Homo sapiens: one gene and its partners. The protein of the gene in region 2 interacts with the protein of the main gene of each other region in a pairwise test. Each region holds a gene or a part of one and is shown on either strand. Other genes may lie near its edges.

Evidence for each region.
Region 1: the proteins of ANKRD40 (region 2) and AHCY interact in binary tests that used the Homo sapiens proteins (3 or more experiments, as listed by UniProt).
Region 3: the proteins of ANKRD40 (region 2) and RFC3 interact in binary tests that used the Homo sapiens proteins (3 or more experiments, as listed by UniProt).

What each region holds. Positions count from the first base shown.
Region 1 is NC_000020.11:34,300,341-34,308,306, forward strand, and holds the start of AHCY (adenosylhomocysteinase), read right to left. Parts: upstream 3,016-7,966; 5' UTR 2,931-3,015; coding exon 2,903-2,930; intron 2,651-2,902; exon of another isoform or gene 1,441-2,650; coding exon of another isoform or gene 1,407-1,440; intron 1-1,406. UniProt on the Homo sapiens protein: Catalyzes the hydrolysis of S-adenosyl-L-homocysteine to form adenosine and homocysteine. Binds copper ions.
Region 2 is NC_000017.11:50,704,915-50,712,745, forward strand, and holds the start of ANKRD40 (ankyrin repeat domain-containing protein 40), read right to left. Parts: upstream 3,001-7,831; 5' UTR 2,741-3,000; coding exon 2,607-2,740; intron 1-2,606.
Region 3 is NC_000013.11:33,813,227-33,821,163, reverse strand, and holds the start of RFC3 (replication factor C subunit 3), read right to left. Parts: upstream 3,016-7,937; 5' UTR 2,986-3,015; coding exon 2,899-2,985; intron 33-2,898; coding exon 1-32. UniProt on the Homo sapiens protein: Subunit of the replication factor C (RFC) complex which acts during elongation of primed DNA templates by DNA polymerases delta and epsilon, and is necessary for ATP-dependent loading of proliferating cell nuclear antigen (PCNA) onto primed DNA.

The DNA of each region.
Region 1 (7,966 bases), on a different chromosome or scaffold from region 2:
TAAAGTAAACAAAACTAAACAAGCAAACCCTCCAATGGCTTCCCTCAATCTTCGGGCCCTATCTGCATGACTGCCTGCCCCTCCTCCATCTCTCCACTTTCCCCACTCACTAGCTGTTCAACACACAGGCTTCCTGACTGACTTCAGGCAAGCTCCACTCATTTCCACCTCAGGGCTTTAACCCAAGCAGTTCTCGGCCTGGAAGGCTCCTCTCAAGCACCTAATACAGTACCTGGCACACAGTAGGTGCTGAAAAAAACCTGGAAACAGGAAAGAACCTAGTATATCCCTGCTAGAGGAACCAAGAGTGCACCAGGGTGACTCAAATAGAGGCATAAGATGAGTTGGGACTTCAGTCCCAGTGAAGTGGGGAACCTACAGTTTTCAGGGGCCAGCATTCAGAGACCAGATTTGTCTTTTGAAAAGACCCCATTGGCTGCTGTGTGGATCTGCGGAGCAAGAGATCCAGGGAGACCTGCAAGGAGAGAGACCAGACTGGGGTGGTGACCGTGGAGACAGACAAGTGGCAGATCTGCTCACATAAAATGGAGACAATACTACTTTATCTGTATGCATGTCTGTGCCACCCCTGTCTCTGGGTCACCTTTGTGTCTCCAGCATGACCTGGCTCAGAGAAGGGGTCAGCAACTGTTTACCGACCATATCTGTCCTCAGAACTGAATGAAAGATCCATGAGAGGGGCTGGCACGTGACAAGGGTGGCAAAGAAAAACAACACAAATCTGAACCTAGTCTGAGTCCCAGCATTTACTAATGACCCAGAGAGGACCCAGAGAGGAGTTTGCTGCAGGTTCCATAGCCAATTAACCGCAGAACCAGAACTGGCAGCCAGGCAGGGCTAGAGCAGAGGCCCCTCTCAAGGCCCCTCCTGGGAGGGGCCCGGCTGTATGGGACAATGGGTTATGCCCTGTGCTGCTAAGCTCCACCCCTCCACCACCACATGTCCCTCCAGCTAAAAATAACTCCTTCAGTGCCCTCGAGGACACTGTGCCAGCCCCACAGTTTTCCCTGGGACCCTCAACTCCAAAGGCACAGGAGAGGCTAGATGCTGCAATCTCTGGAGCTAAGGACTTGCAAAAGTCACAGGAACACCTGTCCCCAGGACAAGCCAAGAGGAACAGCAAGAGCCCCTGTAAACATCAGTTTCTTCATCTGTAAAGTGTGGATAATCATCCCTAGCTTGCTATGCGCCTTAAGTAAAGATAATGCCATATGATCAAGATCTGGCATACAGCAGGGCCTCCTTCCTCCAGCCCCACCCAGCTAAGCTCCCCATCCCCAAATCCAGCTTTATCTCCACCCACACAACCCAATGGCCCCAATCCTGACCCACTAATCTCTCCACAGTATGACAAGCCCCCATTCCAGCTCTACTATTGATGTGACCTTCACATAACCTTTCTGGGTTCAGTTTCAGCATCCACACAATGGAGACAGTCTACTCTGGTAGCAACTTGATGAACTACTTCAACAGAATCTTTGCAAGTCACCTCCCAAGGGCCTCAGTTTCATGCTCTATATAACGGGATTACGTCCACCTCTATGAAGATTATTGTGTAAACACACGTAAATCACCAGATATACAGCAAGTGTTTCCATAAATGTGGATGGCATTCTCCAGACTTAATAGTGTCTTTTTTTGTTTGTTTTTTTTTTTTGAGACAGGGTCTTGCTCTGTTGCCCAGGTTGGAGCGTGGTGGTGCAATCTCGGCTCACTGCAACCTCCGTCTCCCCGGCTCAAACAGTCCTCCTGCCTCAGCCTCCCGAGTAGCTGGGAATGAAGGCGCCCGCCACCACGCCCAGCTAGTTTTTGTATTTTTGGTAGAGATAGCGTTTCACCACGTTGGCCAGGCTGGTCTCGAACTCTTGACCTCAAGTGATTCGCCCACCTCGGCCTCTCAAAGTGCTGGGACTACAGGGGTGAGCCACCACACCCGGTCCAATAGTGTCAAAGTTACTTGAAAAGCTACCAGCCAAACTGAACTGGTTTTTGCTGAAAATTCACTAGGATTGTTCCGCGTGTATTCGCTTGCACACAGTGGTGAAAGGGTGCGCTCAGAGATCTAGATGGCCTGCGTTCCAATCTTGCTCCATCACCACCAGCTGTAAGACTGAGGGCAAGTTACCTCTGCCTCAGGATTCTCATCATAAAATGAGAACAGTTTCCCTATAGAGCCATGAGACTAGAATAAAGCTAGAAGGCAGTGCCGATCCCACAGGAAACACTAAGTAAACGTTAACTATCCCTGTATTACACTTCAATCGGTGGGACAGCAGGATTTTTCAAACCACTCCAAATTTTCTTCGAGATTTCTGCAAGGCTGCCCCTGCTGGAGGGGTGGGGGACCCCACAGGTTGGGTAACTGGCCCAAAGTCCCAGGGGAGAGGAGGATCGGAGCCGGCCTGGGGCTCGCTTTCCAGGCCTCTCCTCATACACCCTCCGGGGTGCCCTCGCCGTCCCTGTAGGAGGCCCAGAGAGGGGTGGACGCTCGTCGGGGCCGCCCAGCTGGACAGGGTCCGGTCCAGGCCTAGGAGGCCGGGCGCAGGCCCCCCGAGCAGGGTCCGGCAGGTGCCAGCCGTCCCAGGCCGTGGCCAGGTGTGCTCTCCCGCGGAGCACGCCGCCAGTTTGCGGCTCGCAGACCGCGCGGCGGCCCCGGCGTCGCGGGGCATGCTGGGACTTGTAGTCCACGGCCACCCGGAACGGCCCGCTCATGGCCGCGCGAGAACTCCAACTTCCAGCTGGCTTCGCGCGGCCAGAAACGCGCCGAGGCTGCGATTCCAGGGGGTCCAGAGAGCCCCGAGTCGGCCCTGCAGCCCCCGCCACGAACAAGCCCCGGGCGGGTGCCGGGCGGCCGCAACCGGCTGCAGGTCCTGGGACTCACCGACTTTGTAGGGCAGTTTGTCAGACATGCTGGCGGCACTCGTGATGGAAACGGGCGAAGGGGGCTGGGCCTCAGTCTGGGAACAGGAACTGGGCGGGCAGCGCCGAGCAGGGATATGCGCGTGGCGCCGACGCCTTTAAATATCTTCCTCGCACTTGCATATTCATGACCCGCTGGGGCGGGGCCCAACGCGCAGGGCGGAGCCGGAGGGGATTTCGATCCCTGAAAAGAAGCCTCAGAATTTCACAAGGCGTGGCCCCAGGAGTCTCACTCACCGGTCCGGAAGGGAGCGCCGGGAGAGGCCTGAGAGCCAGCCGGGCCGTCCTCTCGCTGGTTCAGCCAGTTGATTCAGTGTCAAAACCCAGCGGAACTGAAATTCCGCCAGTTCACTTCCCTGTGCCTCAATTTCCTCATCTGTAAAATGGGCCAAATGACATCTGCCACACAGATTATTATAAGTAAAGTTGCAGGCCAGGCGCGGTGGCTCACACCTGTAATCCCAGCACTTTGGGAGGCCAAGGCGGGAGGATCGCTTGAGCCCAGGAGTTCAAGACCATCCTGGGCAACACAGTGAGACCTGAACTCTACAAAAAAAAATTAAAAATTAGCCGGGCGTGGTGGCGCGCGCTTGTGGTCCCAGCTACTTGGGACGCGGAGGCGGGAGGGAGGATCTTTTGAGCCTGGAGATCGAGGCTGCAGTGAGCTATCATCCCACCACAGCACTTGAGCCTGGGCGAAAGGGCAAGACCCTATCTCAAAAAAACCAAAACAAAGTTAAGTTGCCATTTGTCAGGTACCTACTGACATCCCAAACATTCGCCTTACTCCAAGTAACCAACACCCTGAATTTAAGTAAGTTTGCATACATTTCTTATACTTTTACTGCATCCGTATATCATTAAATAGTTCTGTGTTTAGCACCTTTATATATCAACCGTATTTACCCTTCTGCAACTTGCTTTTTTCTGTGAGCATTATATTTATGAGACTCATGCATATAGCTTGAGTATATTCATTTTTGCTGCTGTATAATTCAGTCATCCCAGGCATGGGAAGGGGAAATTGGTTTCAGGACCTCTGTGGACTCCAAAACCCTTCTATGTTCAAGTCCCTCATATAAAATGAGGCAGTATTGGCATATAACCTATGCACATTCCTCCGTACACTTTAATCATCTCTAGATTACTTATAACTAATATAATGTAAATGCTATGCAAATGGTTGTTTTGTAATTTGTATTATTTTTATAGTTATGTTTTTTTAATTGCTTTTTTTCCCCTGAATTTTTTTTTTTTTTTATGGAGTCTCACTCTGTCGCCCACACTGGAGTGCAGTGGCACCATCTAGGCTCGCTGCAACCTCCACCTCCCGGGTTCAAGCAATTCTCCTGCCTCAGCCTCCCGAGTGGCTTGGATTACAGGCACGCACCACCACACCTGGCTAATTTTGTTTTTTCTTTTTTTGAGATAGAGTTTGGCGCTTGTTGCCCAGGCTGGAGTGCAATGGCATGATCTTGGCTCACACCAACCTCTGCCTCCCGGATTCAAGCGATTCTCTTGCCTCAGCCTCCCGAGTAGCTGGGATTACAGGCATGAGCCACCACGCCTGGCTAATTTTGTATTTTTAGTAGAGACGGGGTTTCTCCATATTGGTCAGGCTAATCTCGAACTCCCGACCTCAGGTGATCCGCCAGCCTCTGCCTCCCAAAGTGCTGGGATTACTGGCGTGAGCCACCGTGCCCGGCCTCTACTCATTTTTTAACCTAAAAATGAGAAAAGAATTAAACTCTTCTGGCCGGGCGCGTGGCTCACGCCTGTAATCCCAGCACATTGGGAGGCCGAGGCGGGCGGATCACGGGGTCAGGAAATCGAGACCATCCTGGCTAACAGGGTAAAACCCCATCTCTACTAAAAATACAAAAAAAAAAAAAAATTAGCTGGGCGTGGTGTCGGGAGCCTGTAGTCCCAGCTACTCGCAAGGCTGAGGCAGGAGAATGGCGTGAACCCGGGAGGCCGAGCTTGCAGTGAGCCGAGATCGCACCACTGCACTCCGGCCTGGGCGACGGAGGGAGACTCTTGTCTCAAAAAATAAAAAATAAAAATAAGAATTAAGGTCTTCTATGACATAGTAAATGTATTGGTCTCACTTGATCTGTACATCTGACCTCTGTCTGAGAGTCATGAGGGCCGATGTCAAGCAGAGACTTCCTGAGGGAACGAGGGTCCACGCCTGGGAGGTGGGCAGCAGGGTCCTCACGCATCCCTTTCAGCATTCTGCAGTGCATTGCAGTGTGTAGTGAGTCGTGTCAGTCTAACTAAACGTAGGATCATGTTACTAGGTTGTCCTACGAGAACAGAAAAATGGCTTCAAAATATTCCTGCAAAGAAATGGCAAGTTCCAGATACTGTGAAAATTACCAGCACAGCAAACAAGTAGAAAAGGACACAGCTGACAGGTCTCTTTCTGGTATGAATGCTGGTCTTTGTCAGCCATGTTGTAAGGAATGTAATAAAATTTGAGAAAACAATGAAAAAGACACTTTGAAATATGAATTTACGGACCAGGCGCAGTGACTCACACCTGTAATCCCAGCACTTTGGAAGCCGGGGCGAGTGGATCACTTGGGGTCAGGAGTTCCAGACCAGCCTGGCCAACATAGTGAAACCCTGTATCTACTAAAAATACAAAAATTAGCCGGGCGTGATGGTGCACGTCTGTAAACTCAGCTACTCAGGAGGCTGAGGGACAAGAATTGTTTGAACCCAGGAGGCGGATGTTGCATTGAGCCAAGATTGCGCCACCGCACTCCAGCCTGGGTGACAGAACAAGACTGCCTCAAAAAAAAAAAAAAAAAAAGAAAAAAAAAGAAATGTGAATTTACATGCCCTCTCATTAATTAATGATGACTCTCATCCTCACTGTATATCGTGCTTTGAGATATCAGCTAATGAGATATTTGCTAATATTTGTACCGTTAAGTTCATATGAACAAAACTTTGGAGACTGCTGGTCTCAGGAGAAGGTCTAAGCACCTTAGTCTGGCCTTATGCAACCTCTCTAGCAGCAGAATGTTCTAGCCTATGGATATATTGCAATTGATATAGCCAATTTCCTATTATTTCAGCTTCTTTTTTTTTTTTTTTGAGAAAGAGTGTCTCTCTGTTGCCCAGGCTGGAGTGCAATGGTGTGATCTCGGCTCACTGCAACCTCTGTCTCCCAGGTTCAAAGTGATTCTCGTACCTTAGCCTCCCAAGTACCTGGGATTACAGGCACACGCTCCCACACCCGGATAATTTTTGTATTTTTAATAGAGACGGTGTTTCACCATGTTGGCCAGACTGGTCTTGAACTTCTGACATCAAGTGATCCTCCCGCCTTGGCCTTCCAAAGTGCTGGGATTACAGGTGTAAGCCACCACGCCCAGCCAGGTTCTTTTAATGGATGAACAGTTAAACAAATTGGTACAGCCATACCATGAAATAATACTCAGCAAAAGGAATAAACTTTGATAAATGCAGCAACCTGGATGAATCCTTAGAGAATTATGCTGAGTGACAAAAACCAATTCCAATATATTACATAGTATATTATTTCATTTCTATAATATTCTTGAAATGACCAAATTATAGAAATGAACCACAGATTAGTGGTTGCCAGGTATTAGGTAGGGGACGGGAGCAAGAGAGAGGTAAATGTGGCTGTAAAAGGGCAACATGAGGAAACTTTGTGGTGATGGAATGTTCTGGATCTTGCTTTATCATTGTCAGTATCCTAGTTGAGATGTTTTATTATGGTTTTGCAAGATGTCACCATTGGGAGAAAGCGAGCAAAGGGCATTGGGATTTCTCTGTGTTTTCTTTGTTTCTTTTTTCTTTTTCTTTTTTTTTTTTTTTGAGACAGGGTCTGCTATCTAGGCTCACAGCAACCTCCACCTCTCCCAGGCTCAAGCCATTCTCCTGCCTCAGCCTCCTGAGTAGCTGGGATTACAGGTGCATGTCGCTACCACCCGGCTAATATTTATATTTTTAGTAGAGATGGGCTTTCGCCATGTTGGCCAGGCTGGTCTTGAACCTCTGACCTCAAATGATCCACCTGCTTCAGCCTCCCAACATGCTGAGGTTTTTTTGTTTTTTGTTTTTTGTTTTTTTTGTCGGAGTTTCGCTCTTGTTGCCCAGGCTGGAATGCAATGGCAAAATCTTGGCTCACTGCAACCTCCTCCTCCCAAGTTCAAGCAATTCTCATGCCTCAGCCTCCTGAGCAGCTGGGATTACAGGCACATGCCACCGTGTCCAGCTAATTTTGTATTTTTAGTAGAGATGGGGTTTCTCCATGTTGGTCAGGCTGGTCTCGAACTCCTGACCTCGGGTGATCCGCCCGCCCTGGCTTCCCAAAGTATTGGGATTACAGGCGTGAGCCACCGTGCCCAGCCCCCTGTGTTTTCTTACAACTGCACATGAATCTACAATTATCTCAAAATAAAAGGTTTAATTACAAATGATAATGTTCATTGTTGGTGAGTGTATGGCAAAGTTTTGTCACCCATTAAATTAAAAAAATTTTTTAACTTTTATTTTAGTTCAGGGGTACCTGTGCCAGTTTGGTACATAGGTAAACTGGTGAGTTGGGGGTTTGGTGTACAGATTATTTCATCACCTGGGTACGAAGCACAGCACCTAAGTTTTTTTTTTTCTAAACCTCTCCCTTTTCTCACCCTCATCCCTCAAATAGGGCCCATGTCCATTGTTCCCTCTCTCTGTTGATGTGTTTTCATTATTTAGCTTCCACTTATAAGTGAGAACATGCTGTATTTGGTTTTCTGTTCCTGGGTTAGTTTGTTAAGGATAATGGCCTCCAGTTGCATCTATGTTCCTGCAAAGGACATGATCTTGTTCTTTTTTATGCATGCATAGTATTCCATGGTGTATATGTACCACGTTTTCTTTATCCAGTCTACCATTAATGGGAATTTAGGTTGACTCTATGTCTTTGCTATTGTGAATAGTACCTGTTAAATTTTAAAAGATTTGGCCAGGTGTGGTGGCTCAGGCCTATAGTCCCAGCACT
Region 2 (7,831 bases):
CCATCCTGGCTAACACGGTGAAACCCCATCTCTACTAAAAATACAAAAAATTAGCCGGGCGTGGTGGCGGGCACCTGTAGTCCCAGCTACTCGGGAGGCTGAGGCAGGAGAATGGCGTGAACCCAGGAGGCAGAGCTTGAAGTGAGCCAAGATGGCACCTGGCACCACTGCACTCCAGCCTGGGCGAGAGTGCGAGACTCTGTCTCAAAAAAAAAAAAAAAAAAAAGAACCCTATCCTATCTGTGCTGCAAAGCAAGTTCAATAAATGTTAGCTATTTATGCTTCATCTCATTAAGGGCTCACAATACTCTTCTGGAACAAGTAGAAAATGAAGCATCTCAGGCAAAGTCCCATAGCTAGGCAGGAATGGAGGAGAACCTGCAGGAAAGACCAGGCTCCTTCTACACAACACCGCCTCCCAGTGCCAAAATGGTAATTCACAGCTTTGAACCAGAGGAATGCTGAGAAAAGGTTACATACACAACAGCAAGTTTGCAAAGACCTGTAAAAAAAAAAAAAAACAGAACAAAAAGGTAGTATCCACTGTTTCCTGGCCTTCTGGACAGCTGTCCAGGCTGTTTTCTTTAGGGAAATTAGGTAGAAAAAAATTTTTTTTTGAGACTGGGATCTCACTATGTTGCCCAGGCTGGTCTCAAACTTCTGGACTCCAGTGATCCTCCTGCCTTGGCCTCCCAAAGTGCTGGGATTACAGGCGTGAGCCACCAGGTCCTACCAGGAAGATAGACTTTTTTTTTTTTTTTTTTTGAGACAGAGTCTCGCTCTGCCACCAGCCTGGAGTGCAGTGGTGTGATCTTGGCTCATTTCAACCTCCAACTCCCTGGTTCAAGTGATTCTCCTGCTGCAGCATCCCAAGTAGCTGGGATGACAGGCACACACCGCTACCCCTGGCTAATTTTTGTATCTTTAGTAGAGACAGGGTTTCACCATGTTGGCCAGAATGGTCTCGAACTCCTGACATCGTGATCTGCCCACCTTGGCCTCCCAAAGTGCTGAGATTACAGGCGTCAGCCACCGCGCCAGGTCCAGGTAGGTAGACTTTTGAGGCAGTCTGGAAACCATGGTTCTGGTGCTATCATATTAATAGTTATGTGGCCTAGGGCAAGTTATTCTCTGTGGTTGAGCCTCTCTCCATTGTCCCTTTCAGTTCCAAAATGGATGATTCCACTTAAAAAAACAAAATGTAAACTCACTTTTTTTTTTTTTTGAGGTAGAGTCTTGCTCTGTCGCCCAGGCTGGAGTGCAGTGGTGCAATCTTGGCTTACTGCAACCTCCGCCTCCCAGGTTCAAGTGATTCTCCTGCCTCAGCCTCCCAAGTAGCTGAGACTACAGGCATGCACCACCACGCCCAGCTAATTTTTGTATTTTTAGTAGAGACGGGGTTTCATCATGTTGGCCAGGATGGTCTTGATCTCCTGACCTCGTGATCCGCCCACCTCAGCCTCCCAAAGTGCTACTCACTTTAACTCTAAGCTAGCAAAATAGTCTGGCTAAGCATTACCTGAATCAAAATTTTAAATTTTAAATGCAGAGAGCGGAATAATGCCACATTCAGTAACTTTCTGTTTTGACCACCAGCAACATCTTAAGATGAGACTCCTTATTTAATTGGGAAGAATTCAATCTGCAGGCAGACATCTAAAGTCTTGGGTGACATTCTGTATTTGAAATTGTAATAAGAAAACTGGCCAGGAACGGTAGGCTCACATCTGTAATCCCAGCACTTTTGGAGGCTGAGGCGGGTGGATCACTTGAGGCCAGGAGTTTGAGACCAACCTGGCCCCATCTCTACCAAAAATACCAAAAAAAAAAAAAAAAAAAATTAGCCGGGTGTGGGGGCGCGTGCCTGTATTCCCAGCTATTTGGGAGGCTGTGGCAGGAGGATCACCTGAGCCGGGGAGGTAGAAGTTGCAGTGAGCCGAGACTATGCCACTGCACTCCACCCTGGGCGACAGGGCAAGACCCTGTCTCAAAAAAAAAAAAAAAAAAAAAAAAAAAAAGAAAGAAAATAATCGATAGGATAAACAAATGAGTTTTCCCTCAAACAGGCAACTACAGGCAGCAGCAGCAAATCGGTTGCAGTGAAACAACAGAGAAGCAGAATGGTGATGCAAATGTGTTTTTTTTTCCTGGTCTTGGCTAAGGAAATCGTGCTAGTTTATAAAATTCATATTTGCTCAGTTGCTTATGCTTTTAGCTCTGCAAGATGCGTTCTCCAGAAGCACCTACGGCAAATTAACTCAACACTCGAATTGGGGTGAGCTCCAACGCATAGTCGCTGAGAATCACTGCCTCCAGCACCGCTCTGACCAAGTGAGCCGGGAGCGCGGGGGAAGGGGGTAGGGCACCAGAGTCCCAGTGGGCGCTGCCCCGAGTGGACCACGTGGGCCGGGATTTGGGCAGGACGCGCTCCCGACCGCACGAGGCATGGGGGCCAGGGCTGGCCTCAAGAGAGCACAATCTCGGAGGCCCGAGGTGGCAGGCCTCGCCGTAGCCAGGCGTCCCGCGCTGGGCCCAGGTCGCGACTGACTGCCCCACGCCTTCCGACCGGCTGCCCTGACCCTAGGCCTCCCCCGCTCCCCACTTACCAGCCGTTGACCTCATTTTGGGAGTTCACATCCACCCCGCTCTCCACCAGTTTCTGCACCTCCCGAATGTCCCCTAAGGCCGCGGCCTCCCGCAGCCTCTCCTGCTGCTCCTTCTGCTCTAGGAGGGCGTTCATCTTCCCACAGCCCCAGGCCCCCGCCCAGGCCCGCCTGCCCCGCCCCGCCCGGGGCCTGTCAGCGCCGCCGCCGTCGCCGCGGCCCGCTCCCGGCCATGGGGAGGGAGCGCGGAACTCGCCCGCCCTGCTCGCGCCGCTGCCCGCGCCCGCCCCGGGACTTCCGCTCCCTCCCGCGGGCCGCCCCTGCTGCTCCCGGCCCGCAGGCCCAGGCCTCCTCCCGGGCCGCGCCTCCCGAAGGCCGGCTCCGGGGGACCCTGTTCAGTGTGACAACGCTGACCCAGATATTTTCCGTTCCGACCCGGGGCTCCGGCGCCCGGGCTGGCTGTTTATGTAACTACTGCACAATATTATATGCCATGATTCATTGACTATTTTTAGACTTCCCCACCCCGCAGTTTCAAGGGAGGAGGACAAGACACATGAAAAGAGAAAAAAGCATAGCTGAGGGCCAGAAAAGCCTTATCCTCTGGTGCAGGCTGTTTACCAGGCATCCAAAATAATTGGTGGGTTCTTTTTATTGGGATTTGGGGTTTTTTTGTTATTTTCCCCCAGTTTGGTTGGCTCCTTTTCCTTATCTGAGCCAATTCGTGCCCAGCAGGATGGGGAAATGGGCTGAAAACGATCCTACTATAATACGCCCATTATTACAGAGATAGATTAGACTCTTCTTCTTTTTGACAGTGCTTGGGGACAATTCAGTTAGAATATTTATTTCAATTGTTGTTGTTTTACATCTCATTTTAGACAGGATTTCTTCTAACCTGGCTTTCAGGAAAAATATTTATATTGTGCTCACAGTTTATGAACTGTAATTACTGCTTACAGATTGTAATTAGTTACTCTTCATGAAGGCCATATAAGGAGAAAAGAAAGGAAAAACACCAAAGAGGCTTTGGAGGTGTCCTGGTCCTGATTCCAAGTGCTCTGGGAAGAGCTGTGGTGTACATGTAAACAGCATTTTGCTTCACTTCTTGCCCGATCTATCTAATGAGGCTCAGAGCCTCAGTTGGCACTGTTTTATACCCAGTGGGAGAAAAAGGAAATATTGTTTTGTTGAGCCCAGGTGCCCTGAAGAGATCCTCCGATGTGGCACAGGATGGAACTTTACAGATGGGGTCAAGATTAAGGAAATAGCCCTGGGGAGGAAGGGAGGAAGGCCTGAACAAGGAGAGATGAAATAGGAAGGGATAAATTTAGGCATGGAGTTTTCATTTCCGTCTCTTGGGGCTGCTGGGATCTGCACAGCAAGCATTTTTCTTGCTACAGTTTAAGAAAAACCAATGTCTGTTTGTTTAGTATGATACAGTAATTCACACAGTACACAGTGCACACCAGGTGGTGCTGAATATAAACTGACTACACACTTAAATTGACCCCCATGGCAAATTGTAACCCTGCTTGAGCTTACATTTTCATTTGTTCCCCCAATTTAAATTTTAATTCTCACATCCAGCATGATACTCTATCTGAAACTGATGTGTATGGCACTGGATTTGAGTCCTTCAACACAATTTCAGTGACATGGGAGTAGGTAGTGGCTTGTTGTTTTTGTTTGCTTGTTTTTGAGACAGAGTCTCACTCTGTTGCCCAGGCTGGTGTTCGGTGGGGCGATCTCTGAGCTCCTTGCAACCTCTAAGTCCAGGTTCAGGCAATTCTCCTGCCTCAGCCTCCCGAGCAGCTGGGATTACAGGCCTGTGCCACCATGCTCGGCTAATTTTTGTATTTTTAGTAGACATGGGGTTTCACCATGTTGGCCAGTCTGGTCTCCAGCTCCTGACCTCATGTGATCTGCCAGCCTCAGCCTCCCAAAGTGCTGGAATTACAAGCATGAGCCACCGCGCCTGGCCTGTTTTTGTTTTTTTGTTGTTGTTGTTTTTTGTTTTTAATGCAGTTAAAAAAAATTGTTCGTGACTGCACCCCAAAGTCTATGAGTTCTTTTTTTTTTTTTTTTTTTTTTGAGATGGAGGAGTTTCGCTCTCATTGCCCAGGCTGGAGTGCAACAGCGCGATCTCGGCTCACCACAATCTCCACCTCCCAGGTTCAAGCGATTCTCCTGCCTCAGCCTCCTGAGTAGCTGGGATTACAGGCATGTTCCACCATGCCTGGCTAATTTTTTGTATTTTTAGTAGAGACGGAGTTTCTCCATGTTGCTCAGGCTGGTCTCAAACTCCCGACCTCAGGTGATCCGCCCGCCTCAGCTTCCCAAAGTGCTGGAATTACAGGCATGAGCCACCGCGCCCGGCCCCCAAAGTCTATGAGTTCTCTTTATGAGAGTTTGTCAAATGTCCCTTCCTTAAAAGGATTATAGCATGTACCCTACATAACTGCTGTATCCGTGAATATTAGTAGATCTTCTTAAACTCAACCTCTACTTACTCTGATTTCAGTCTTCTGTTTATTATCTTCAGATTAAAAAAAACAAAATTTTATCCACAAACAAAACTTCTGATCTTGGATATAACTGAATGTAACCTGCTGGCTGTTCTATTACTACTTCCATTTATCTCTACTCTGTCTTGTCTCTAGGGAACTACCTAACTCACTGAACTGTATTAAGCATGTGCTGTTTGCCAGGCACTGTTCTAGTCACTGAGGATGCTGCTGCAAATGAATCAGAGTCCTTGACTTTGAAGAACAGTTTATCAGGGGAGACAAGGCGAACAATAGAATGTGCTATGCATTACAATAGAAACAATGTGGCATAGTGGTAGTGAGTGTGGAGACAGACGCCAGACTGCCTGGGTTTGTATGCCAGCTTTGCCACTCATATAATCTTGAATGAGTTACTCAACTTTCCTGTGCCTCAAATTCTGCACCTGCGAAACAGGAATAATAGTAGCACCCACCTTGCAGGATTGTTCTATGGATTGAATGAATGGATATGTGCAAAGCCTAGACATCTTAAACATTCATTGGATCATAGGTGGGTTACAACAAGGTTTACGTTAGGAAAACTTAACCTGGCAGAATGGGAGGGCAGTGGTGGTCAAGAAACAAGGATAATGTTCGGGTTTCTGGATGATTAGATGGTGGTGTGATTTATTGAGATTTGGGACAAAGGATGAAGAGAAGGTTTGAGGTTTGGTCATGAATTCACTTTTGAATCTGTTGACTTGAACTTTCTGAGACCTTTTAATTACTACTACTCTTTACTATCTGCTACTATCAACTCATTGCCAGGTGCTGCAGGAAGTGCTGTACATGGATTATCTCATTTAATCCTCACAACAACTCCTCTGTAAAACAGGACCATCATTATTATCTGAGGCTCAGGGAGGTAATTAACTTGCCCCAGTGCTGGCCAGGCACGGTGGCTCATGCCTGTAATCACAGCACTTTGGGAGGCTGAGGCGGGCAGATCACCTGAGGTCAGGAGTTTGAGACCAGCGTAGCCAACATGGCGAAACCCCGTCTCTACTAAAAATACAAAAATTAGATGGGCGTGGCGGCAGGTGCTGGAGGCAGAGGTTGCAGTGAGTCAAGATCTCGCCATTGCACTCCAGCCTGGGCAACAGAGTGAGACTCTGTCTCAAAAATAAATAAATAAATAAATAAACAAACTTGCCCAATGCTATACATCGTAGTTTGTGATGGAGCAAGGCTTTGAACTCAAGTTCAACTTCTGAGCCTGTGCTTTCTTTTCTGATTTTCATTTAAATGGATATGTTCAGTAAACAGTTATGTGAATGGGTATTGCATTTAGGAAGGAGATCTGGGCTGGTGATTTGTATTTTGGCAGTCAGCAAAGGGTGCTAGCTGAAGTCATGGGAATAGAAGAGATAGCCCCAAGGGAGTCTGTGAGTGCTGAGAGAAGACTCCTGCCAGGCGCGGTGGCTCATGCCTGTAATGCCAGCATTTTGGGAGGCGGAGGAGGGTGGATCACCTGAGGTCAGAGTTCCAGACCAGCCTGGCCAACAGAGCGAAACCCTGTCTCTACTAAAAATACAAAAAGTAGCCGGGTGTGGTGGAGCGCACCTGTATTCCCAGCTACTCAGGAGGCTGAGGCAGGGGAATCACTTGAACCTGGGAGGTGGAGGTTGCAGTGAGGCGAAATCATGCCACTGCACTCCAGCCTAGGCAACAGAGTAAGACTCTGTCTCAAAAAAAAAAAAAAAAAAAAAGACTGCTGAAGACAGCCAGGAATGGTGGTTTGTTCCTGTTAATCCCAGCTACTCAGGATGCTGAGACAGGAGGATTCCCTTGAGCCCAGGAGTTCCAGACTAGCCTGGACAACACAGTGAAACCCTGACAGTAAGACCCTGTCTTAAAATAAGTAAGTAAATAAATAATTTTTAAAAAGAAGACAGCCAAAGACTGAAGAATACAGATGGTTCCCAACTTATGATGGTTGCAGTTAGGATTCTTTTACTTTACAACAGTGCAAAAGTGATACACAAAAGTGCAAAAATAAGTAGAAACCTTACTTTGTGTAACCAAACAACTATTCTGTTTCTCATTTTCAGTACAGTATTTAATAAATTACGTGAGATATTCAACACTTTATTATAAAATAGGCTTTGTGTTAGATGATTTTACCCAACTGTAGGCTAATTAAAGTATTCTCAGCACATTTAAGGCTAGGCTAAGTTATGATGTTTGGTAGGTATATTAGTCTATTTTCACACTGCTATCAGGAACTACCTAAGGCTGGGCACAGTGGCTCATGCCTATAATCCCAGCACTTTGGGAGGCCAAAGACAGGTGGATGATCACTTGAGGCCAGGAGTTGGAGACCAGCCTGGCCAACATGGAGAAACCCTGTCTCTACTAAAAAATACAAAAATTAGGTGGGTGTGATGGCGCAAGCCCATAATCCCAGCTACTCGGGAGGCTGAGGCACAAGAATCACTTGAACCTGGGAGGAAGGGGCTGTAGTGAGCCTAGATTGTGCCACTGCACTCCAGCCTGGGCGACAGAGCAAGACTTTGTTTAAAAAAAAAAAAAAGAAAAAAGAACTACCGGAGACTGGGTAATTTATAAAGTAAAGAGGTTTAATTGGCTCACAGTTCCACATGGCTGGGGAGGCCTCAGGAAACTTACAATTATGGGAAGGCGAAGCAAGCGCCTCCTTCACAGGGTGGCAGGAGAGAG
Region 3 (7,937 bases), on a different chromosome or scaffold from region 2:
ACTAACAGATGAGGAAAGTCACCACACTGCACCTGAAAAAAAAGAACAAGGCATTTTTCCCTAGTCAAACTGAACTGCTCTAGGTAGAACCAAACTACTTTTTAAGTAACAAATATTTTATGTGTCTACCCATGAAACTCCCAGTTCATGAGTAGATACACCCAATTTTTTATATATGTGTAAAACTTGGAGTTTCATGGGTAGATACACAAAATATTGTGTATCTTTTATATATATATATATATATATAAATATATATATGCTGAAAAGTTTACTATTCGCCTGACACTAATTTTGTATAACTTATATACGTGACAGCACATGCAAGATACAAAACTAAATGCTAGAAAGCGGGAACTCCCAAACCTGACTATCAGAATCTCCTAGAAAACTTTTTAAAATAAAGGACTGACTAATGAACAGACCCTATCATCCATGAGATTAGGATTCTGTAACTCTGAGATTCAGGCCTTTCTTACTTCGGACTATTAGAAACAGTCCCTGTGATAACAATTCAGTGCATTTGGTTTCTTTGGGAGGTTACTTGTGAGATAAAGGAAAACTTCATAGGAGAGTGGGGATGCGAAACAGGGAAAGGAAGGCAGCCAGTAAGAGTGTGTTGTCAAGTTGAATGGCTCTAGGTATCTGTGTTTGATCCTGCTAGGGAAACTCTTAAAGCCAACATAAACACCCACCAGAGTGTTAACCCACCCAAAGGGTGGGGAAGCTGCCGTATGATTATCTCTGATGAGTTCTTTCTTGAAGCCTGCTTAGAAAAGTGGATGGGGGAAAAGAAAGAGCATTAATTCCAGGCATTTCAAATCTACTATGGGTGTCACAGAGAGAAAAGCCCTCAGGCAAAGTACAGATGTACAAAGTTAGAAGTCAGAAGTCAGTCTGTGTGCACTTAAAAGCAAGAGGACTGGGTAGGGCACTAACAGTATCTGCTGATGATGAGTTTTGCAAAAGCTTTTCGGGTGTTTCTGATGATCAGTCTGGTTTGGGAACCAGTGCTATGAAGGCTATAAAGATGAGTGGGTGACAGACCTTAGCCTCGGGAGCATAAAGTCTTGTAAGGTGAAGTTCTGTAAATAACCATTATTGAAAAAATGGAATACGTATCTTAAGAGAAGCGCTTATTGCAATGAATTTTAATACTTTGTAAACTCATCCATCTCTGTCACTAAAAAGTCCCAAGGAAAAGAACTATTCAATCTAATATACTGCCTGGAAAATGGCAAGTGTCCCACAGACACTTACTGCCTTGTTTTTTCAACTTCAATCTAATCAAAAATAAGGGTTATGCTTTAAATGTTTCATAGTTTGATTAAGCTGCAAATAAAAGAGTAAACAGGTGAACATTTCTTAAAAGCAAATTTAACACATAAGACCATTATATTAAATTCATGTCCAAAATATACATTCCAAATTCTGTACAACAAAATGTGGCCACAGAAAATAAAATGTATTCTATCACTAGGAAAACTGAAGACAAAGCTATTGACGGAAAATGTAATTTGTCTATAAATGATGGATACTGCAGTAATCAATTTATTTTAAATTAGTATACATGCAGTATCAATAAAGAGACCAAAAAAAAACCTTCAATGTCACAACACTATCAACTAGTCTAATGATTTTTACGTGTACAATCTTTTCTTATTATTTCTTATTTTTAAGACGCACTTAATTAAATAGTATCTGTAAATCTAAGAAAGGTCGGAAGGGAAAACCAGGGTATTGGGCAAAAACGTTTCCATCAGCATCATATATTAATTTGAGTTCCTTAAAAGGAGTGGATAAATGTCTTCCACAGACACTTTATTCTCCTAAAGATCCTTCTTTACTCTCTACTCCCTGGAAGATTCAGTTCGTTCTCACAAAATATTGCCATTGGGCACTTTTATCAACTACAACAGACAAAGAGGCATCAGGATAGAGGGGAGAGGATCTTTCACAAAGCTCTAATCTCAGCCACGCACGGTGGCCCACGCCTGTAATCCCAGCACTTTGGGAGGCCGAGGCAGGCGGATCACCTGAGGTCAGGAGTTCGAGACCAGCCTGGCCAACGTGGTGAAACCCCGTCTCTACTGAAAAATACAAAAATTAGCTGTGCGTGGTGGCGGGCGCCTGTAATCCCAGCTACTCGGGAGGCTGAGGCAGGAGAATCGCTTGAACCCGTGAGGCGGAGGTTGCAGTGAGCCGAGACCGCGCCATTGCATTCCAGCCTGGGCGACAACAGCTAAACTCCGTCTCAAAAAAAAAAAAAAAAAAAAAAAAAACTAATCTCAGGAACGTCCTAATACAATTTATTTGAGAATTAGAAACGATCTTTGGAGTAAATACATATTTACAACACTTTACTTGTAAATGACAATGACATCGAGAAATCTTAAGCCAGCTAGAAAGTAAATCACATGGTGTCATCTCCGCTCAAAATGCTCCAACGGCTTCTCGTCTTATTCTGAGACTGACTGGGTCTGCACTCCAACTCCATCCCAACACATACACCCATCTCCGATTACCCTTCCCGCTGGTTCACCACTATCGGCTACGCCGGCCTCCTGAGGTTCTTAGAACATGCCGTGCACATCCCTGCCCGGGAATTTTGCACTTGCTGTCCCCTCTTACCTGTTCCACTCTTTGCTCGGATTTCTGTATTTATGACTTTTCAATTTCCTTCAAGTCTCGGCTCAGATGCCACTTCTCAGTGGAGCTTTTCTTGTTTAAAAATACAAGCCAGCCTCCCACACCTCTTCCCCCTTCCCTGTGTTATTTTTCTCCATAGCACTTATCACCTTCCAATGCGGGCGGGAGAAGCACTGCTCCTCAGGGGGGCGCGAAACCCCGAGCCGGGGGGCCTCCCCTCTCCCACGCTCCCGGCCCCCGCAGACTCACCAGGTTCCGCAGCTGGGCCGCCTGCTCCTTGTGATAGTCCAGCCGTCCCAAGGAGCAGGGCCGATACTTGTCCACCCAGAGGCTCATGGCAGCTCGAGTTCCCGGGGGCCTACGCTTGAAAATCCCGCGCGAGCGCGCGTCCTCCCCACAACGCAGAGACAAGTTTTCCCGCGAGCTCCAAATCTCGTGACGTCACTACCGGTCGCGGCCGCGTAAATGATTTTGGACGGAAAGGCTACGGGGGCCGTGTGCAGACAAAATCAGCTGCCGCGTCGATGCCCTCTAGTTCTGAAGTTCACTGCTTTATTTATTTTCTCTTTGTTCGCACCGTCTATTATATTCTAGAAATTATCAAGCGGAATTGAAAATGTGGTTCTGACCCTTTTGGCGTCACATCCAGATACCTCAGAGAAGACCGTTCCTTTCATTTATTCATTCTTTCATTCACTTAATTCATTCAACAAAAATTTACTAAATATCTGCTAGGTGTGGAACTCTGTCCTCGGCACTAGAATATATACATCTCAGGGTTTCACTCACTTGGCAGGTACCCAGTAAAGCTTCATTGGATGAATCGCTTGAAAATGTCTGATCTTCACTATCCTTTGTTACCTCTATTCCTCAATATTCTTATTGGATTAGAAACAAAAGAATCAAGAGCATGGAAAAACTACCCAAATGTGGTCTGTAGGGGAGAAGACACGAGGTTAATATGCATTCTAAGTCTAGAATATTTGAAAGCCCTCCAATTAAAATGTGTAGAAGCATCTGAACCCCTCAGAAAAATATTCTGCATATGAAGTTGATATGCAACTTTTGAAGTTCTCTTCAAATAGTGCCTCTCAAAATGCACTTTACTCATTGTACATAATATTAATTCCTTATTTAATTTATGCTTTTATTTTATGTATTATTAAGAACCCTAAGTCCTGCCATTTGATTGCAAGGTCTTACAGGCAGGAAATGATTTCCAAATATACTTAATAACCTTTCACCAAGGTGCCTCTTACTCATTTATTAATCAATAATTTATCATGTTCTTCTATGAATCGTCATATTACATGAATTACTCCTGCAGGTAAGGTATTATCCACACCACCAAGTATAAGATTTAATCCCTGTTCTCGAGAAACTTTCTATAATAAGCCTGGAAGGCTTCTGCCTCAGGGCCTTTGCAATTACTGTTTCCTCTTCCTGGACTATGTTTCTCCAGTCAGCAGAGTTGGGTCCCTCATTTCCTTCAGGATGTTGGCTCAAGTATTATCTCCTCACTGAGGCTTCCCTGACCACCCTATTTAATATTGCAAAAAAGCTTCATCTTCTTTATGCTTCTCTCCTTTGGAATTGAAATGGAGGAAGTGTTTGAAATGAGAAGGTAAAGGAAATCAGAAGCAGGGATACTGAATTGTGGTCTATGTGTATATCATAATCATAATGAATGATAATGGAAATAAGTACTGAGAGGAATAAAGAGAAGAACCAAGTGCTAGAATGATCAATAATTTGGCAAGAGTGACCACAGGCATGACAGACAACTTCAATAAGGAGCAGTGGTTGATGGTCTCTACCGTGAAGACATGTCTCTACCATTGAAGCACATGAAGACATGTGCTTCAATATTGTTGGGGGTTCTGAGGAAGGAGAAATAGTGTGGTGACCCAGGAAGTCCAGTTAAATTTGAATTTCAGAAGCTTTTTCATATGTCTATGGCAAAATTTATTACAAATGATTTTTTTTCTCATATAAGTATGTCCCTGGCAATATTTGAAATTGTAATAAATATTGCCAGGGACATACTTATATGAGAAAAAAAATCAGCCTTTATCTGAAATTCAAATGTAACCAGGGCCCTGTATTTATCTAGCAATTTTACTCCAGACTCTTGAATATATAGGATATGAGAAATTGCTACAGAGGAAGTAAAGTCCTCGGGGTTGGTAAACTACAGCTGCAATCACTTTAATGTTTAATGACTCTGGCCCTCAGGTATCTTAGCTCTTTTTTTTTTTCTTGAGATGGAGTCCCAGTCTGTCTCCCAGGCTGGAGTGCAGTGATGCGATCTCGGCTCACTGCAACCTCCACCTCCTGGGTTCAAGCGATCCTCCCACCTCAGCCTCCCATGTAGCTAGGGTTACAGTTGTGCACCACCACGCCCAGCTAATTTTTTGTATTTTTAGTAGAGACAGGGTTTTACCATGTTGACCAGGCTGGTCTCGAACTCCTGAGCTCAGGCAAGCCAGCTGCCTCGGCCTCCCAAAGTGCTGGGATTACAGTAGCGAGCCACCACGCCCGGCAATCATATAGTAATTGTAAGTTTAATTTTTTGAGTAACTGCCATACCGTTTTCCACAGTGGCTGCACCACTTTACATTCCCATGAGCAATGCAAAAAGATTCCAATTTCTCCACATCTTCACCAACCAACAACCTTTTTAAATTTTAGTCATTCTGGCAGGTTTACAGAGAAATCTCATTATGATTTTAATTTCCCTAATGATAAATGATGTTGAGCATCTTATTAATTATTAGAATATTCTTTTGTAAAGTGACTATTCAAATATTTTGCCTATTTTTATTAGATTGTTTGTCTTTTTCTTATTAATTTCTTTCCTTTTCATGCATGTATTTTAAATAATCTTTTTCCTACATGTGGCTTGGCTTTAATCTCTGTTAATGGTGTCTTTTGATAAATAGTTCTTAAGTTAAATATAGTTCAGCTTGTACTGTTTTACAAAATCTTTACCTACTCCAAAGTCTTGAAGATGTTCTTCTGTGAGTTTTTCTTCAAGTTTTATGGTTTTGCTCTCACATTTAGATTTTAAATCCACTGGAATTTTTTTTTTGTATGCCTCCATACAAAAAAAAAAGTCTAAAAGGTCAAGGTACATTTTTTTCCATGTGGATATCCAGTTACACCAGCAGTGTTTATTAAAAAGACCTTTATTCACTGTACTGTAGGGTCACCTTGTCATAAATCATGTGACCTTGTATGTGTGGATTTGTTGCCGAACTCCCTGTTTTGTTCCATCAATCTATTTGTCTATCTATGCACAGGTACCAGACTGTCTTGATTACTATAGCCTTATAATAGGTCTTGGTTTCTGGTAGTTTGACTTCTATTCTTATTCAAGATTATCTTTGCCAGTTTTTGTCCTCTGCATTTTCATATAAATGTTAGAATCAGCTTGTTAATGTTGCAGAAATCTTGGCTGAGTTTCTGTTTGGTATGGCTAGTTACAGGGAGTTAAGTCCATGTCTGAACTTTGTGGATTTCACCTTGTTGATCTTCAAAATCATAAAACATAAATTGTTCCACTTGAGCATATTACAAACCACCTATTTTACTGATGCTTTTATATACGCAACTACAATTCTAAAACCAAAAAAAAAACACTTTACTTTCTGTATGATTTAACTGTGATATATATTTAACACATCTTCAATTACCCTTGCTACCTTCTTAAAAGGTAATATGTTAAAACTGAAAATACTCATTCATAGGCATTTAAAAGGAAATTTTATTTTAAGTGAAATGGCATGAAAAAACAATTAAAACTTTAAAAACACAAAATGTGATTAAATATCCTAGGGGTAAAAAGATAGGGTCTTTATTCCTTCGGGGCTTTGTTTCTCTCATCGCTGATGTTATTATCATCTTGATGTTTGAAATATGACTAATCTATGGCCTGTGAGAGACAAACCTTGAACACGGGAGATCCCACAGTGGAGCAAAGTGAGAGGATGACCCAGGCGACAAAGACAGAACAAGCTTGGAAAACCACCAGTCCAGGCAGAAGCAGGAGGATTACTGTCTTCAAGAAGATAAAATTAATACCTGATATGCTTGCACATACTGAGATGAGATTTACTCCTATAGAAAAGAGTTTAGTAATAAATTAGCAAGGTGTGTGTTAAACACTAAGTCAAAGACAAAACAAGACAATTACTAATAGCAGAGTACATAAAAGGTACAGAGTTGTTCCTCCGTGTTAATGAGGAATTGATTCCAGAACCTCTACAGATCACCAAATCCATGGATGTTCAAATTCCTTATATAAAATGATGTAGTATCTGCATATAGTCTACACACATCATCTTGTATACTTTAAATTATCTCTAAATTACTTACAATAAGTAATGTAAAGAAAATGCTATGTAAATAGTTGTTATTGTTTTTTATTTGTATTATTTATTGTTGGTTTGTTATTTTTTGTTGTTGTTTTCTGAATATTTTCAATCTATGTTCGGTTGAATCTGTGGATGTGGAACTGGGATATATGGAGGGCTAACTACATAAGGAATAGATAATACATGAGAAAGGAAATTTTATAGCATTAAAATATGCTCAACTGTGAATAATATTTACATAATCCAAATAATGTAAACATTATGGGCTGGGCATGGTGGCTTACATCTGTAATCCTAGCACTTTGGGAGGCCAGGAATTTGAGACCAGCCTGACCAACATGGTGCAACCCTGTCTCTACTAAAAACACAAAAATTAGCCAGGCAAGGTGCCGTATGCCTGTAATTCCAGCTACTCAGGAGGCAGAGGCAGGAGTATCACTTGAACCCGGTGTATCACTTGAACCCGGTGGAGGTTGCAGTGAGCCGAGATCATGCCACTGCACTCCAGCCTGGGTGACAGAGCAAGACTCGGTTTCAAAAAAAAAAAAAAAATTGTGTATTTCCCTATGAAGAAATTATAATATAAAAATAGGGGGAAATGAGAGGAAAGGAAGTGTGTACAGTTGTGAGAATGGAATTGTATGAGAGGTGAGACCTCATCTCCACAGAAGGAAATTGACAGCTAAACAAGCAAAATCAAGAAGTAGTAGTATTAGCATGTTATTAAGAAACATGGAATTGATGCCAGAATACACATGTGTGCATGCACACACGCACATACACACGCACACAAAAAGAGTTGAAAGTGTTTTCTGGGCCGGGTGCAGTGGCTCACGCCTGTAATTCCAGCACTTTGTGAGGCCGAGGCAGGTGGATCACCTGAGGTCAGGAGTTCAAGACCAGCCTGGCCAA